Linked DNA regions of Homo sapiens. The protein of the gene in region 1 purifies or fractionates together with the protein of each later gene. This does not show direct contact. Each region holds a gene or a part of one and is shown on either strand. Other genes may lie near its edges.

Region 1 (4,216 bases):
ACAAAGAAACATGGGTGGTGAGAATAGAAGGGAAAGGGTACATACATTTCAGAGAGATCAGAAGGATAGGATTTGTGAGATTTACTAAGTAGCTATAAGGGGTGAAGTAAAGAAAGCATAGAAGGAAAGTTGATTTCTAGCGTAGAACATTTTAATTTTACAAACATTTATTCCCTCTCCCAGCTCCATGGAAAAAGTACTCACTAATTGCTGTTGGTATATTAATTTGTATTACATTTTCTTCCCCACTTTCTCTTTTTTTTTTGAGACAGGGTCTGTGGCCCAGGCTGGAGTGCGGTGATGCCATCTTGGCTCACTGCAGCCTTGACCTCCCCGGGATCAAGAGATCCTTCCACCTCAGCCTCCTGAGTAGCTGGGACCATGTGTGCCAGCCACCATGCCCAGCTAATTATTATTTTTTTTTTTGAGACGGAGTCTCACTCTGTCCCCCAGGCTGGAGTGCAGTGGCGCAATCTCAGCTCACTGCAGCCTCCGCTCCCTGATTCATGCCATTCTCCTGCCTCAACCTCCCAAGTAGCTAGGACTACAGGCACCTGCCACCACGCCCGGCTAATTTTTTTTGTATTTTTAGTAGAGAGAAGGTTTCACTGTGTTAGCCAGGATGGTCTGGAACTCCTGACCTCGTGATCCGCCCGCCTCGGCCTCCAAAATGCTGGGATTACAGGCGTGAGCCACCGTGCCCAGCCCTATGCCCAGCTAATTTTTATATTTTTCGTAGAGACAGGGTTTCGCTGTATTGCCCAGGCTGGTCTTGAACTCTCGGGTTTAGGTGAGCGCCTTGGCCCCCGAAAGTGCTGGGATTATAGGCATGAGCCACTGTGCCTGGTTTCCCTTTCAAAAGAGATTTTGGGTGTTTCGTGTCACTGTATCCACGCCGCGTGCGGTCTCTTGTGCGTGGCTTCTTTTCCTGAGCACGCACAGCTGCCTTCTAACCCGCGAGCAATGGCGTTAAGGTTTTTGTTTGTAATTCGGGGGTGACCCAGGGGTTCGGGCCGCGGGCCCCTCCCCTCGCCCAGGCACACCTTGCAGAGGAGGGGGCGGCGGGGACAGGACCCGGGTCTGTGCCTGCGCACACCCTCGCGGGCCAACCCCCTCCCCCCCCGCCCCGCCGGGTACCTGTCACGGCTACTGCCGCGGCGCGCGCCCGCCACGTTAAGCCGGATGGCGGGAGGAGGGGTGCGGGGAGGGTGGCACGGCGCGCGCGTGCGCGGGAGTCGCCGAGCAAGAACTGGTAGTGCGCGCGCTCGCCGCTCGCTCGCGTCCCGGAGGCGGAGTCTGCGGCGGCGGGCGGAACGGGGGCGCGCCTATGCTAGTCACGTGGGCGCTGGGGCGGGGCCGGGCGGCCGTTCAAGGCAGGGGGCGGGGCGTCTCCGAGCGGCGGGGCCAAGGGAGGGCACAACAGCTGCTACCTGAACAGTTTCTGACCCAACAGTTACCCAGCGCCGGACTCGCTGCGCCCCGGCGGCTCTAGGGACCCCCGGCGCCTACACTTAGCTCCGCGCCCGAGGTGAGCCCAGGCCCTAAGTCCTCCGGGCGGGGGTAGGGGTGGGGGACGCTCCTTTTTGTTGGGGGGGGGTCTTGGAGGCGCGAAGGCACTAGGCGCCTCGGCGGATGGCTGAACCCCTCGCCCGCGGCTCCCCGTGTCTTTTGGGGGGCCGGGTGCGGGCGCGGAATCCGGGAGGTGTCCGCACAAAAGGCCGAGAAAAACTCCGCGACGCCTCCCTCCCTCCCTCCGCCCTCCCCGTCCCCTCCTCTCCGCGCCCGCTCCTCCTCATTCAAACCCGGCCGGCCTGAGTGGTGTTAGCTCAGTCCCGGCCGCCGCCGCGTGAGGAAATGGCCTAGGAGCCGGAGCCGCAGGTAAAGGGGGCGCGCCCCCCGCCCGCGCCAGCCGGGGCGCCCGCCCGGTCCTGCGGAGGCTCCCGCGCCGCCCCCGAGGCGCCCGGCTCTCGTTGTCTTGTCCCCCCCCAGGATGACCTGAGTTCCCCGTGTCTGCTTTCTAGCCGCTCCTCTAGGGCGCCCCCTCCCCAGCTGGCTCCTGCGCTTCCGCCCACGGGAAGGTGCGGGCGATCCCGGGCTGCATCCGCTCTTGGCCGTCACACTCACGCTGCACGATTTAGAAGGGCTTGGGGTGCGGGGTTCCCTGAGTCTCCGCCGGGAGCGGGGGTCCGGGGGTCTGCGGGGGTGGGCGGTGGGGTGCTGTTCCGAAAAGTTGGGTCGCCCCGCGGGGCGGGTCTCCCAATTTGCCCAGTCGGCCCTTGGGGCGCGGGCGGAGGGGGGACGTCGGCGTAGGGTCCCCAGCGATGCCCCGGGAAGGGCTGGGACAAGTTGGAAACGGTCAAAACAATGCGTCTGGACGGGCAGCATTGTTTCTTATTGTAGTTTTAATCTGCATTTCTCTAATAGATAGTGATGATGACCAGTTTTTCATTTGCTTATTTGCCAGTTGCAAATCTCTATTAGTGAAGTATCTGTTCACGTATTTTGCCCGTTTTTTAAAAGTTGGGTTGTTTTCTTACAATTGAAGTTTATTTTTTCTTATACTCAAAATTTTAATTCGCACATAATAAATTGTACATATTTATGAGGTACAATGTGATGTTTCAGTACATTTTACATTGCATAATGATCAAATCATGGTAATTAGCATATTCATTGCCTTAAACATTTACCATGTCTTTGATGTAAGAATATTCAAAATCCTCTTTTCTAGCGAGAATATGAGTGTATTTTAAATGTTCATCTATTTGTTTTCTCACAATCCTATAAAATGATAGCTTGAGTCAATGAGTTATGCCCCCAAGTCCTATCAACCTTGTCTATTTTAGTGAAATTTAATATTGTTTAGAAAACACTAAGCAAACATAGTTATTCAGAGAGCATAACTGAGCCCTCTGGTTATTCTCTGTAACCCACAAAGGAAGCTGAACACTTGATGTAAACTTCTTCATCAGAGTAAATAATAATCCTCTCCATTACATACAAAAGAAAAAATAACTAGAGAGATAGTCTCTGCTCTGAGGTTATTATCCTGTGGTCTTTGGTTTTGGTACATTCTCCCCCACCCCATGCCCTTCTCCCTCATCTTTAATGAGTATCTGTATGTATGGCAGAACAGTATTTTTTTTATTATACTTTAAGTTTTAGGGTACATGTGCACAATGTGCAGGTTAGTTACATATGTAAACGTGTGACATGCTGGTGCGCTGCACCCACAAACTCCTCATCTAGCATTTGGTATATCTCCCAATGCTATCCCTCCCCCCTCCCCCCACCCCACAACAGTCCCCAGAGTGTGATGTTCCCCTTCCTGGGTCCACGTGTTCTCATTGTTCAGTTCCCACCTATGAGTGAGAATATGCAGTGTTTGGTTTTTTGTTCTTGCGATAGTTTACTGAGAATGATTTCCAATTTCATCCATGTCCCTACAAAGGACATGAACTCATCATTTTTTATGGCTGCATAGTATTCCATGGTGTATATGTGCCACATTTTCTTAATCCAGTCTATCATTGTTGGACATTTGGGTTGGTTCCAAGTCTTTGCTATTGTGAATAGTGCTGCAGTAAACATACGTGTGCATGTGTCTGTATAGCAGCATGATTTATAGTCCTTTGGGTATATACCCAGTAATGGGATGGCTGGGTCAAATGGTATTTCTAGTTCTAGATCCCTGAGGAATCGCCACACTGACTTCCACCATGGTTGAACTAGTTTACAGTCCCACCAACAGTGTAAAAGTGTTCCTATTTCTCCACATCCTCTCCAGCACCTGTTGTTTCCTGACTTTTTAATGATTGCCATTTTCAAAGAATAGTATGTTTTTAAGTCTGTGCAGTCTTGGGCCAAGCTCGTTCTATTCCCCATTCTACAAGAATCACAAGAGCGCTAGGATTCTGTTTGGGGTTGCCGTGGACACAGAGTTCTTACTACAGAACTGACTTATTCTCAATAGGAGGTAAAGACCTAGAGGTGAGGTCTCTGAGCAAGGGAGTCCCATCCCATCCTCTGCCCTCTCTGTTGGCTGTTATCCTCTCATCTTCATCAGGAGAATTAAAATCATGTAAAGTTTTGGCGGGGGAACTAGATGGTGGTCTCTGCGGCCCATAGACAGGAAAGTTTGCTTATACCCAGCTGGGGGGACCACTAATTGACATTCCTTTCCCCTCCCAGGGACCTTACAGAGTCCCCTTACCCT
Region 2 (3,500 bases), on another chromosome or scaffold:
TTTCACATATATTATGTATAATTCCCCCAACAATTCTATGAGGTATATGCTGTTATTATAAGACCTATTGTATGGATGAGGAAACTAAAGCACAGGGATGTTAAGTGACTTTCCCAAGGTCACACAGAAACTAAATGGCAGAGCCAAGTGGCAGTGTCATTCAAAACCAGGGCACAAAATGTCCTAAGTTCACCTTGTACTTTCCCTGCACCAGGTCTGGAAACAGACATTTCACCAACGATTCCTAGTTCACGTTATTGGGCAATGATATTTAGAAGCCAAGCTGTATACTGGCTGAGTGTGCTCATTACCACTAGGGTGTCTCTGCCCTTTTGATGGATAGAATTAGGGCATACTCTATGATTTTTTTCCACTTTATTTTGTTCTCTACAAAAGATATCTGGTCAGAGTACAGTGTGTTTAAGTTCTCAAAATCTTTAAGGAGTCACGTTGTTAATTTGTAGTATATTTTGCTTTTTTGTGTTTATTTTTTGAATTTGTGAAACATTTACATGGTTCCAAATTACATATAAAAGCATTCTTTTGGGAGACCAAGGTGGGATCACTTGAGCCCAGGAGTTTGCGACCAGCCTTAGCAACAGAGGGAGGCCCCATCTCTGCAAAATATAAATATAAAAAACATTAGCCGGGCATGATGTCATGTGCCTGTAATCCCAGCTACTCAGAAGGCTGAGGTGGGAGGATCGCTTGAGCGCAGGAGTTTGGGGCTGCAGTGAGCTACTACTGGGCCACTGCACTCCAGCCAGGATGACAGAGTGAGACTCTGTCTCTTTAAAAAAAAAAAAAAAAGTATACTTAGAATCATGCTTCCATTCTTATCCTCTTCAGTCAGTTCTCCCTGACCCCCCTAGACGGCTTGATAGTCTATTTTAACATGTGGGGGAACTAGACCCTCCTTATTGCTCTCCTATTTCAGGGTTAGTGAAGATTGTTAAAACTGGAAGCCCTCTGTGTAAAAGAGTACAGTGAAGCAAATATGCATACACACTGCCCATGGGAATGTACACTTACAGGACTGCTTTGGAAGTTAGGTAGATTTTACTATAAACCATAAAAATCTTTGCAATTTTTGATTTGACAGTGCTGAAGTAACTCATACAAAGATACATACAAAAATATTCATCACAATTTTTTTTTTTTTTTGAGACAGAGTCTTGCTCTGTTGCCCAGGCTGGAGTGCAGTGGCATGATCATGGCTCCCTGCAACCTCGACCTCCCAGGTTCAAGCAATTCTAATGCCTCAGCCTCCCAAGTAGCTGGGATTACAGGCTTGTGCCACCATGCTCAGCTAATTTTTGTATTTTTAGTAGAGACAGGATTTTGCCATGTTACCCAGGCTGGTCTCGAACTCCTGGGCTCAAGTGATCCGCCTGCCCTGGCCACCCAAAATGCTGGGATTTCGTGCATGAGCCACCACGCCCGGCCCTCATTATAATGTTTTTTTTGCGTGGTGAAAATTTTAAAACAGTTTCAGTGTCCATCTTTAGCCATTGAAACGGTATATTGGTATATTCAGAGAATATTCATTGACATTGTTAAGGTTCTAACAATACAATAGGTGAAAGAAAGCATTGTACAAAAAGTAATGTGTTTTGTACATAGGGAAAAGACAAGAAAATTCATAAAAATGTTAAGGCAGCATTTTTCATTTTCTTTGTACTTTTTATGCCGCCTTTATTATGGGCTGGCAAGTGGTTGTGTTGTGTTATTTTTTAATTTGAAGAATTTTTTTTACAAAGTCTAATCTTTTCTATTGTGTAAGAATCTGGAAGGTAGAAGTAGTAAAAATGATAGCCCTTGCCATTCTTTTTCATTGTGCATTAAAAATGTAAGCATTTTTTTCTTTTTTTTGAGAGAAGGTCTTGCTCTGTCACCCAGGCTGGAGTGCAGTGGCATGATGATGGCTCACTGTAGCCTTGACCTCCTGGGCTCAAGCAATCCTCCCACCTTAGCCTCCTGAGTAGGTGGGACTACAGGTGTGCACCACCATTCCCAGCTAATTTTTGTATTTTTTTTTTTGGTAGAGATGGGGTTTCCCCATGTTACCGAGGCTCATCTCAAACTCTTGAGCTCAAGCTGTCTACCCACCTCAGCCTCCAAAAGTGCTGGGGTTACAGATATGAGCCACTGCGCCTGGCCTATTTCTTAATATATAAGTTACTAAACTAATATCGCTATCCTTTGAATAGCTAACATTCCATAATTGATTTAGGGTTATAGTCCAAAGTTTACAGATTAGTTTCTGGGTGTCTTACCTCCATTCTTCAGATGGCTGCTTTTTTTTTTTTTTTTTTTTTTTCTGTTTTCTTGAGGACAAGTATTAGAAAGCCAAGTGCAGAATATATCTTCCATAGAAGCCGGCTTTTGTTATGGTAACTTCCCTCAAATGGGGTAGGTGTGATGGTACTCACCTTCATAAACATTTTTCTTTTTTAGCATCTCAAAGACAAATTTTGGAATTTTATTTTCTACAAGTTCATTTTCATCTTTGGTGTGCTGAATGTCCAGACAGTGGAAGAGGTGGTCATGTGGTGCCTCTGGTTTGCCGGACTTGTCTTTCTGCACCTGATGGTTCAGCTCTGCAAGGATCGATTTGAATATGTGAGTTTTTAGCCAAGCTTTTTGCTTGCTTAGTCACCACGTTTGCCAACTTTGAATTGTGTAATGTGAATGAGCCACAGCAGGCATGGTCAGGGTAGCTCTTCTGGGAAGACTTCTAGATCAGGCCCCCATTGCCTGTTTCTTGAAGAACTTTCTACAGCAGCCAAGAGATGCAGAATCGTTGTCTCCTGGGGAGCTTTCTTCCCAACCCCATAGTGTTTACTTACTGCTAACATGGGGTCACTTCACCTATGCAGACTGTTTTGTTCACAGTGCAAGGAAACCTTGATACATAAACAATAAAATCTGGTCTTTTCTAGATATTTTCTGTTCTAGTCTCCTTCTGTCTCTCCCAGCTTACTCTGGTTCGTGGAGCTCTTCTTTCTGAGTAGTTTATACTATTTCCACCCCGGGCCAGGACTGAATTAGCTCCCTCAGCTTCCTTGTTTGCGAAGTGAATCATTTTATGTCTGGTACAAGATCTGTCACTTGGTTTCAGATCATAGCTGTATGAGTGAACCTTCAACCCATTAGTGACCTGAAGTAGTCTCATGAGTCCCAGATAAATGTGCATCTACAGTGCTGCCCCTCAGTTAAACCCGCTCCAGGGCCTTGTTTTTCCCTGTCTTTACCCAGTCCACATGGACCTTGCACCTTGGTTTGAGTTAATCTCACTCTCACAGCCTTTATTTCTTTCACATTCAACCCTCATTTGAAGTCACAAACAGGAGCTTCTAACCTCCCAAACTGTTTTTTTTAATCTCCGCCTGTGACCTCAGGAGTTGCAGCTCTAGGCCTTCTTTTCAGACTGTTGCCTCTCCTTGCATAATGCTGACATCACGTTGTAGTAGTGGTAAACCTGTGCCTGGATTGCATTT
Region 3 (3,500 bases), on another chromosome or scaffold:
GCAATGCAGTGAGGTAGGTTCTATTATTATCTCCATTTACAGGTAAAGAAACTGAGGGTAGAGCATGTAAGTAATTTTCCTGTATGGTTGAACTGGGATTAGAACATTGGTCGCTTAGCTTCAGAGCCCTGTGTGGTTTCCATACTGCTAGATAGAAAGTTAGGTGAACTATTATGGGTGTCAGTTTGCCCGTTTTACATCCGGCTCTCTGCTTCAGGCTTGCCTTAGTCCATATGCATATTTTGATGTATTTGTTTGCTCTTGCTCAAAATTGTGTTATGAAAATTAAGGTGAATACTTAAATGCTATTCTAATCATTATGAAAATTGTTGGGCACCACTTGGACTTTTTTCTTGGATTTACCCTAATAACTTGAGTTGTTTCTGTGGAATTACAGTTGTAGTAAAAGGATGTTTTCATCATAGTGACTTTTTTTCTGCAGCCCAGTTGCAGTATCTTGAATATGAAAGAGAAATCTTGAATTACTGCCTCATTCAAAGCTCTGAATAAGGAACTTTTTTCAGAAGTTTGCTGCAAAATAATTTGCCGACTTGTACTGACAGGAGGCTACTGAATAATCTTTATCTCACTTAATAAATAGTTATGTTCTGTCTTGGAATATTAATTTGTTTGGTTATTGGTGCACTTTAGACCCCATAGGGTCTGTTTGAGTGTAAACGCTGTGTTACTTTTCTAAAATCTGAAAAATTCTTTTTTTTTTTTTTTGATTTTTTTTTTTTTTTTAATTGATCATTCTTGGGTGTTTCTCACAGAGGGGGATTTGGCAGGGTCATAGGACAATAGTGGAGGGAGGGTCAGCAGATAAACAAGTGAACAGAGGTCTCTGGTTTTCCTAGGCAGAGGACCCTGCGGCCTTCCGCAGTGTTTGTGTCCCTGGGTACTTGAGATTAGGGAGTGGTGATGACTCTTAACGAGCATGCTGCCTTCAAGCATCTGTTTAACAAAGCACATCTTGCACCGCCCTTAATCCATTTAACCCTGAGTGGACACAGCACATGTTTCAGAGAGCACAGGGTTGGGGGTAGGGTCACCGATCAACAGGATCCCAAGGCAGAAGAATTTTTCCTAGTACAGAACAAAATGAAAAGTCTCCCGTGTCTACCTCTTTCTACACAGACATGGCAACCATCCGATTTCCCAATCCTTTCCCTGCCTTTCCCCTCTTTCTATTCCACAAAACCGCCATTGTCATCATGGCCCGTTCTCAATGAGCTGTTGGGTACACCTCCCAGACGGGGTGGTGGCCGGGCAGAGGGGCTCCTCACGTCCCAGTAGGGGCGGCTGAGGAGAGGCGCCCCTCACCTCCCGGACCGGGCGGCTGGCCGGGCGGGGGGCTGACCCCCCCACCTCCCTCCCGGACGGGGCGGCTGGCCGGGCGGGGGGCTCACACCCCCACCTCCCTCCCGGACGGGGCGGCTGGCCGGGCGGGGGGCTGAACCCCCCACCTCCCTCCCGGACAGGGCGGCTGGCCGGGCAGGGGGCTGACCCCCCACCTCCCTCCCGGACGGGGCGGCTGGCCGGGCAGAGGGGCTCCTCACTTGCCAGTAGGGGCGGCCGGGCAGAGGCGCCCCTCACCTCCCGGACGGGGCGGCTGGCCGGGCGGGGGGCTGACCCCCCCACCTCCCTCCCGGACGGGGCGGCTGGCCGGGCGGGGGGCTGACCCCCCACCTCCCTCCCGGACGGGGCGGCTGGCCGGGCAGAGGGGCTCCTCACTTCCCAGTAGGGGCGGCCGGGCAGAGGTGCCCCTCACCTCCCGGACGGGGCGGCTGGCCGGGCGGGGGGCTGACCCCCCCACCTCCTTCCCGGACGGGGCAAATCTGAAAAATTCTGAAGCACATTTGTTCTTAAGGATTTTAAGTAAAAGATGAGGACCCCCGTAGTACAGTTTTGGGGAAACACAACAGCATATATAAGTATTTTTATTTTTTGAGATGGAGCCTTGCTCTGTCACCCAGGCTGAAGTGCAGTGGCGTGATCTCGGCTCACTGCAACCTCTGCTTCCCGTGTTCAAACGATTCTCGTGCCTCAGCCTCCTGAGTAGCTAGGAAAACTGGCGCGAGCCACCATGCCTGGCTTATTTTTGTATTTTTAGTAGAGATGGGGTTTCACCATGTTGGCCAGGCTGGTCTCGAACTTCTGACCTCAATTGATCCACCTGCCTCGGCGTCCCAAAGTCCTGGGATTACAGGCGTGAGCCACTGTTCCCTGGCCACAGCAGCATATTTTAATACTTGTTTTTGAGGCTTAGTTTATTTAGTTTTCCTGTGAAACAGTTAAGTAGCCAAATACAAAAATGTAGGCATGCGTTTGAATTTCAGACTTCTGACAGTATTTTCAGAGATAGCATGTGCATGAAAGCATGAAAAGGTTTGCTCTGGCAGTTACACAACCTTAAAGTTCAGTTTAAGTAATTTTTTTTTTGTTTGTTTTGGCATGAAGTCTCGCTCTGTTGCCCAGGCTCCAGTGCAATAGCAAGATCTTGGCTCACTGCAACCTCCACCTCCCAGATTCAAGCAGTTCTCCCACCTCGGCCTCCCAAGTAGCTGGTATTACAGGTGCCTGCCACTACGCCCGGCTAATTTTTGTATTTTTAGTAGAGACAGAGTTTCACCATGTTGGCCAGGCTGGTTTCCAACTCCTGACCTCAAGGGATCTGCCCACCTCGGCCTCCCAAAGTGCTGGGATTACAGCTGTGAGCCACTGTGCCCGGCCCAGTTTAACTAATCTTTATTGAGGTTTTTTTTTGTGTGTTTTCTGCAACACATTTGGGACTTTCAATTTTTAAGGTTGACAGTCGTTTCAGCATGGCTGTTTTGGAATTAGTGGGCTCTTGAATACACCAGAAAGCATAGCACCATTTCACAGCTTGTAAAGTCTGCGGTTTGAAAAATGGAAATAGTTCGTTTATTGGCATATTTGACATGTTAATTGAACGTACCTGTTATCTAAAACATTATTAATGGAATACTTTTGCCTTGATTTCTGCTTAACATGTTTAGCTAAGCGTACTTATAATTAATACCCCTTTTAGTAGTTATTTGTTTTACTCTCTTGGTTTGCAAATTGGCTGAATAAAATGAATATTTCTTCAGACAATTAAGGACAAAAGCTCTGTATGCAATGATAACACGGAGGGCTTAGATTTCCTTGGCATAGTGATTCTTAACCCTGGCTACACATTAGAATCACTTCGGGAACTTTTTTTTTTTTTTTTTGAGATGGAGTCTCGCTCTGTCACCCAAGCTGGAGTGGAGTGGCGCGGTCTCAGCTCACTGCAAGGTCTGCCTCCTGGGTTCACCCCATTCTCCTGCCTCAGCCTCCCGAGTATCTGGGACCACAGGCGCCCACCACCACGCCTGGCTAATTTTTTGTATTTTTAGTAGAGACGGGGTTAGCCAGGATGGTCTTGATCTCCTGACCTCATGATCCGCCTGCCTCAGCCTCCCAAAGTGCTGGGATTACAGGCTTGAGCCACCGCG
Region 4 (3,500 bases), on another chromosome or scaffold:
TGGTTTTATATGCAGCTTAACTAGTTTTTTTTTTTTGGTCACTGTAGAAAATGATGAAAGATAATAACTTAGTAAGGCATCTGGATGCTTGTGAAACCATGGGAAATGCTACAGCTATTTGTTCAGATAAAACAGGAACTTTGACAATGAACAGAATGACAGTCGTTCAAGCTTACATAAATGAAAAACATTATAAAAAGGTTCCTGAACCAGAAGCTATTCCACCAAATATTTTGTCCTATCTTGTAACAGGAATTTCTGTGAATTGTGCTTATACATCAAAAATATTGGTAAGGTTTTTGAAATAATTTATGAAAATTAATTTTTAAATCTATAATGATCAGACTATATGTAAGTCTTCAGACCACCATTACTGTATGTAAACTGAACTGTTAAGTTTTTAAAAGGCATATATTTATTTATATAATGGTTTTTAAATTTGTGTTATGAGTGAGGTCTGCTGATCAACATAAACATTGTTTGCTTACATTTTTCTCCTATATTTTGAATTTCCTGTGTTCAGAAACTCTCCAGCCTTATAACCAGAGCATGTATTTAATTTTAAATTCTTGTTAAGCTCATTTTTGAGAAAGATCAAACTGTCTTACTATAGGAGGTCAGCTCTCAACTTACAGAAAATTTTTAAGCCGATTTCAACTTAAAATAACATGTTTTATATATGGTTGCCATGTGTTCTGTTTGGTTTCTCAGTAGTTCCTACCTAAAAGGTGGTCCTTAGACCTTTTTAGAACTAATGCAGTAAAGTAATTCTAGACTTGTGCCACCATATAATAAAAAATTTTCAACTTACAAGTTTTAAAAATCTTATTTATAACAGAAAGAATGCGATGTTATGTTTGACTTAATCTCTTCTAGTGATTTATGGATGAAAATCATTAACAAAAATAATATTGCAAGCTGTTCATTAGGGAAAACATACATGAATTGGATGATTACATTGGAAAGTTATGGGATCTTGGTTCTAGATCTAGCTTTGCCTTTTACTAGCTGAAAGTCTGAGCTACCTTCTTTAATTACTGAGTAAAGATGATCACATCTGCCCTTAATACCATTGTGATAATTATGTAAAGTGGTATTTCTGAAGGCACTATGAAGGAATTGAAGCTTCTCACTGCATTTAAGAGAACAGTATTTTAATGAATGTACTTTTAAGCCATAAAAATTGGTAGATTTAATTTTGAATGATTTAGTATAAAAGTTAAGTGAAAACAGGAAAAGGAAATTAAAATTAAGTTCCACTCTGTATTAGGAACCAACTATAAACTTCATACATCTTATATCACTTAATTTTGGGGTCATAAGTGCTCCTATTTTACAGATGCTGAAGCCAAGGACCAAAGCAGTTGGGTAATTGTCAAATTTCACGTAGCTAGTAACTGGCAGGACTGAGATTAGAATCCATGTCATTCTCACCCCAGGCTCCTTTCTACCTTACTTTTCTATATCCTTCTTTAAAATGTTGATATTAGACAATTGCTTTGTAATTTTATTTTAGAATATCGCAGTCTGTTTTACATTATAAATTAAACGTTCTTAGAGAAACGAGATACTAGCTACTAAATGTTTTTCTCTTATAGCCACCAGAGAAAGAGGGTGGATTACCTCGTCACGTTGGTAATAAAACTGAATGTGCCTTGTTGGGACTTCTTTTGGATTTAAAACGGGATTATCAGGATGTTAGAAATGAAATACCAGAAGAAGCACTGTACAAAGTCTACACCTTCAATTCTGTTAGGAAGTCCATGAGTACTGTCCTGAAAAATTCAGATGGAAGTTATCGAATATTCAGCAAGGGTGCATCTGAGATAATTCTGAAAAAGTAAGAGTAAAATGCTTGGATGAATAAATTGCTGACTATAGTTGCTTTATGGAGTATCTACTGTGTTGTTATTGTTGTTGTCTTTTTGTGAACATCAGGCATTTGATAGGACCTCAGAGTTTTTTAGCATATTTTATGGTATCCAGATATTTGCCCCTGCTATTCTGCCATTTTCACACTCTAGCTTCTCTTATTTCTTAGCATTTTGTTATAGGGAAAATAAGCTCATTACATTCAATCTGGTATGTTTAATGAAGTATACTTTGATGTTTATTTTTAGAAGTCGATTTACTTGTTATTTAATATGCAGAATCTTGAAAAGCCTCCTGGGAAGAAAATCAAGTTTATGTCTTTCTTTCTTTCTTTTTTTTTTTTTTTTTATTTGTTTAAGGTGGAGTTTCCCTGTATCACCCAGGCTGGAGTGCAGTGGCGCGATCTCAGCTCACTTCACCCTCCGCCCCTGGGTTCAAGGGATTCTCCTGCCTCAGCCTCCCAAGTAACTGGGATTACAGGCACCTGCCACCACGCCTGGCTAATTTTTGTATTTTTAGTAGAGTCAGGGTTTCACCATGTTGGCCAGGCTGGTCTTGAACTCCTGACCTCAAGTAATCTGCCTGTGTCGGCCTCCCAAAGTGCTGGGATTACAGACGTGAGTCACTGCACCTGGCCTCAAGTTTAGATCTTCAACGCTCATTGTGGTTACTGGACTCTGAATGTGATAAGAGAATTATGAAGTAATTTTTAGAATAGCAAAGCATAAAAGCTGGATCTTGGAAATTCCCCATTTATATCAAAATGAGATTTATCATGTTTATGCTGCTGCAGTGTCGTATTTAAATATCTCCTGTCATTTTGAATACTAATTTTTCTTACTGTCCTTTTACAGATCAGTAGCTTTAATTTTGTTATTACATGTTCACATATAATTTCCCTGATGTTTATTTGTTATTAAAGGTGGTGAAATTATTTTAGTTTCTTTAATTTCATTAAAGAAGTAGAGAACTGGTTAAAAAAAAATACTGGTTAAGAGCAAGTTGGGAAAATTGGAACTCATTTGAAATTATAATATTTAAAATATTAAAGTAAATGTTTAAGATATACTTTTAATTTGCTTACATGTGGATTATAAGCCAGTATTAATGAACACTTTACAATTAGTTTAAGAGACAAATATATAAATAAATAACTGAAGGCAGCATATAATAAATTGGTACAAAGTTTTTGGGTGAGAGATCACACTGTAGGGATGTGGCATTTAAGATAGATTTTGGTATGAAATGAGAACTTCGAGGTGGGGAAACCACAGCAGAGGAAAGGAGATGAGAATATGCAGGTCATACTGGGGAGGGGAATATCTGGTTGTATAGTTCAGCTGAATAGTGATGGGCTTTTGTGGCACACAGGCCATATACAGCTTTCTTCTTGCCACAGTACACTCAGTTACCTGATTTCATTGAAAAGGTTAGAAATCTGTTTCAACCCTGGCTTGCTGGGTAGTAGATAGATGGTTTAGGAGAGAATTTTTTTTAGTCAAAACTGATCAGGCATTGACTCTTTCTCTGCAACTAACTAGCTTCTGGATATGGGGCAGATTTTTCCCTTACTTCCATTTTTCTCATCTGAGAAAGCGGGTGATGACCACCAACTCTGTGGCACTTAA

What was found. Proteins that work in one complex are often made in the same cells at the same time.
Region 2: the proteins of TPTE (region 1) and AMFR purify together in Homo sapiens (affinity purification with mass spectrometry; 2 studies listed by BioGRID and IntAct, with this or other methods). This does not show direct contact.
Region 3: the proteins of TPTE (region 1) and SEC63 purify together in Homo sapiens (affinity purification with mass spectrometry, with the first as the bait; 2 studies listed by BioGRID). This does not show direct contact.
Region 4: the proteins of TPTE (region 1) and ATP2B1 purify together in Homo sapiens (affinity purification with mass spectrometry; 2 studies listed by BioGRID and IntAct, with this or other methods). This does not show direct contact.

Annotation. Positions count from the first base shown.
Region 1 is NC_000021.9:10,520,167-10,524,382, forward strand, and holds the start of TPTE (putative tyrosine-protein phosphatase TPTE), read left to right. Parts: upstream 1-1,416; 5' UTR 1,417-1,528; intron 1,529-4,216.
Region 2 is NC_000016.10:56,408,546-56,412,045, reverse strand, and holds part of AMFR (E3 ubiquitin-protein ligase AMFR), read left to right. Parts: intron 1-2,457; coding exon 2,458-2,622; intron 2,623-3,500. UniProt on the Homo sapiens protein: E3 ubiquitin-protein ligase that mediates the polyubiquitination of lysine and cysteine residues on target proteins, such as CD3D, CYP3A4, CFTR, INSIG1, SOAT2/ACAT2 and APOB for proteasomal degradation.
Region 3 is NC_000006.12:107,951,709-107,955,208, reverse strand, and holds part of SEC63 (translocation protein SEC63 homolog), read left to right. Parts: intron 1-3,500. UniProt on the Homo sapiens protein: Mediates cotranslational and post-translational transport of certain precursor polypeptides across endoplasmic reticulum (ER). Proposed to play an auxiliary role in recognition of precursors with short and apolar signal peptides.
Region 4 is NC_000012.12:89,618,339-89,621,838, reverse strand, and holds part of ATP2B1 (plasma membrane calcium-transporting ATPase 1), read left to right. Parts: intron 1-47; coding exon 48-290; intron 291-1,598; coding exon 1,599-1,840; intron 1,841-3,500. UniProt on the Homo sapiens protein: Catalyzes the hydrolysis of ATP coupled with the transport of calcium from the cytoplasm to the extracellular space thereby maintaining intracellular calcium homeostasis.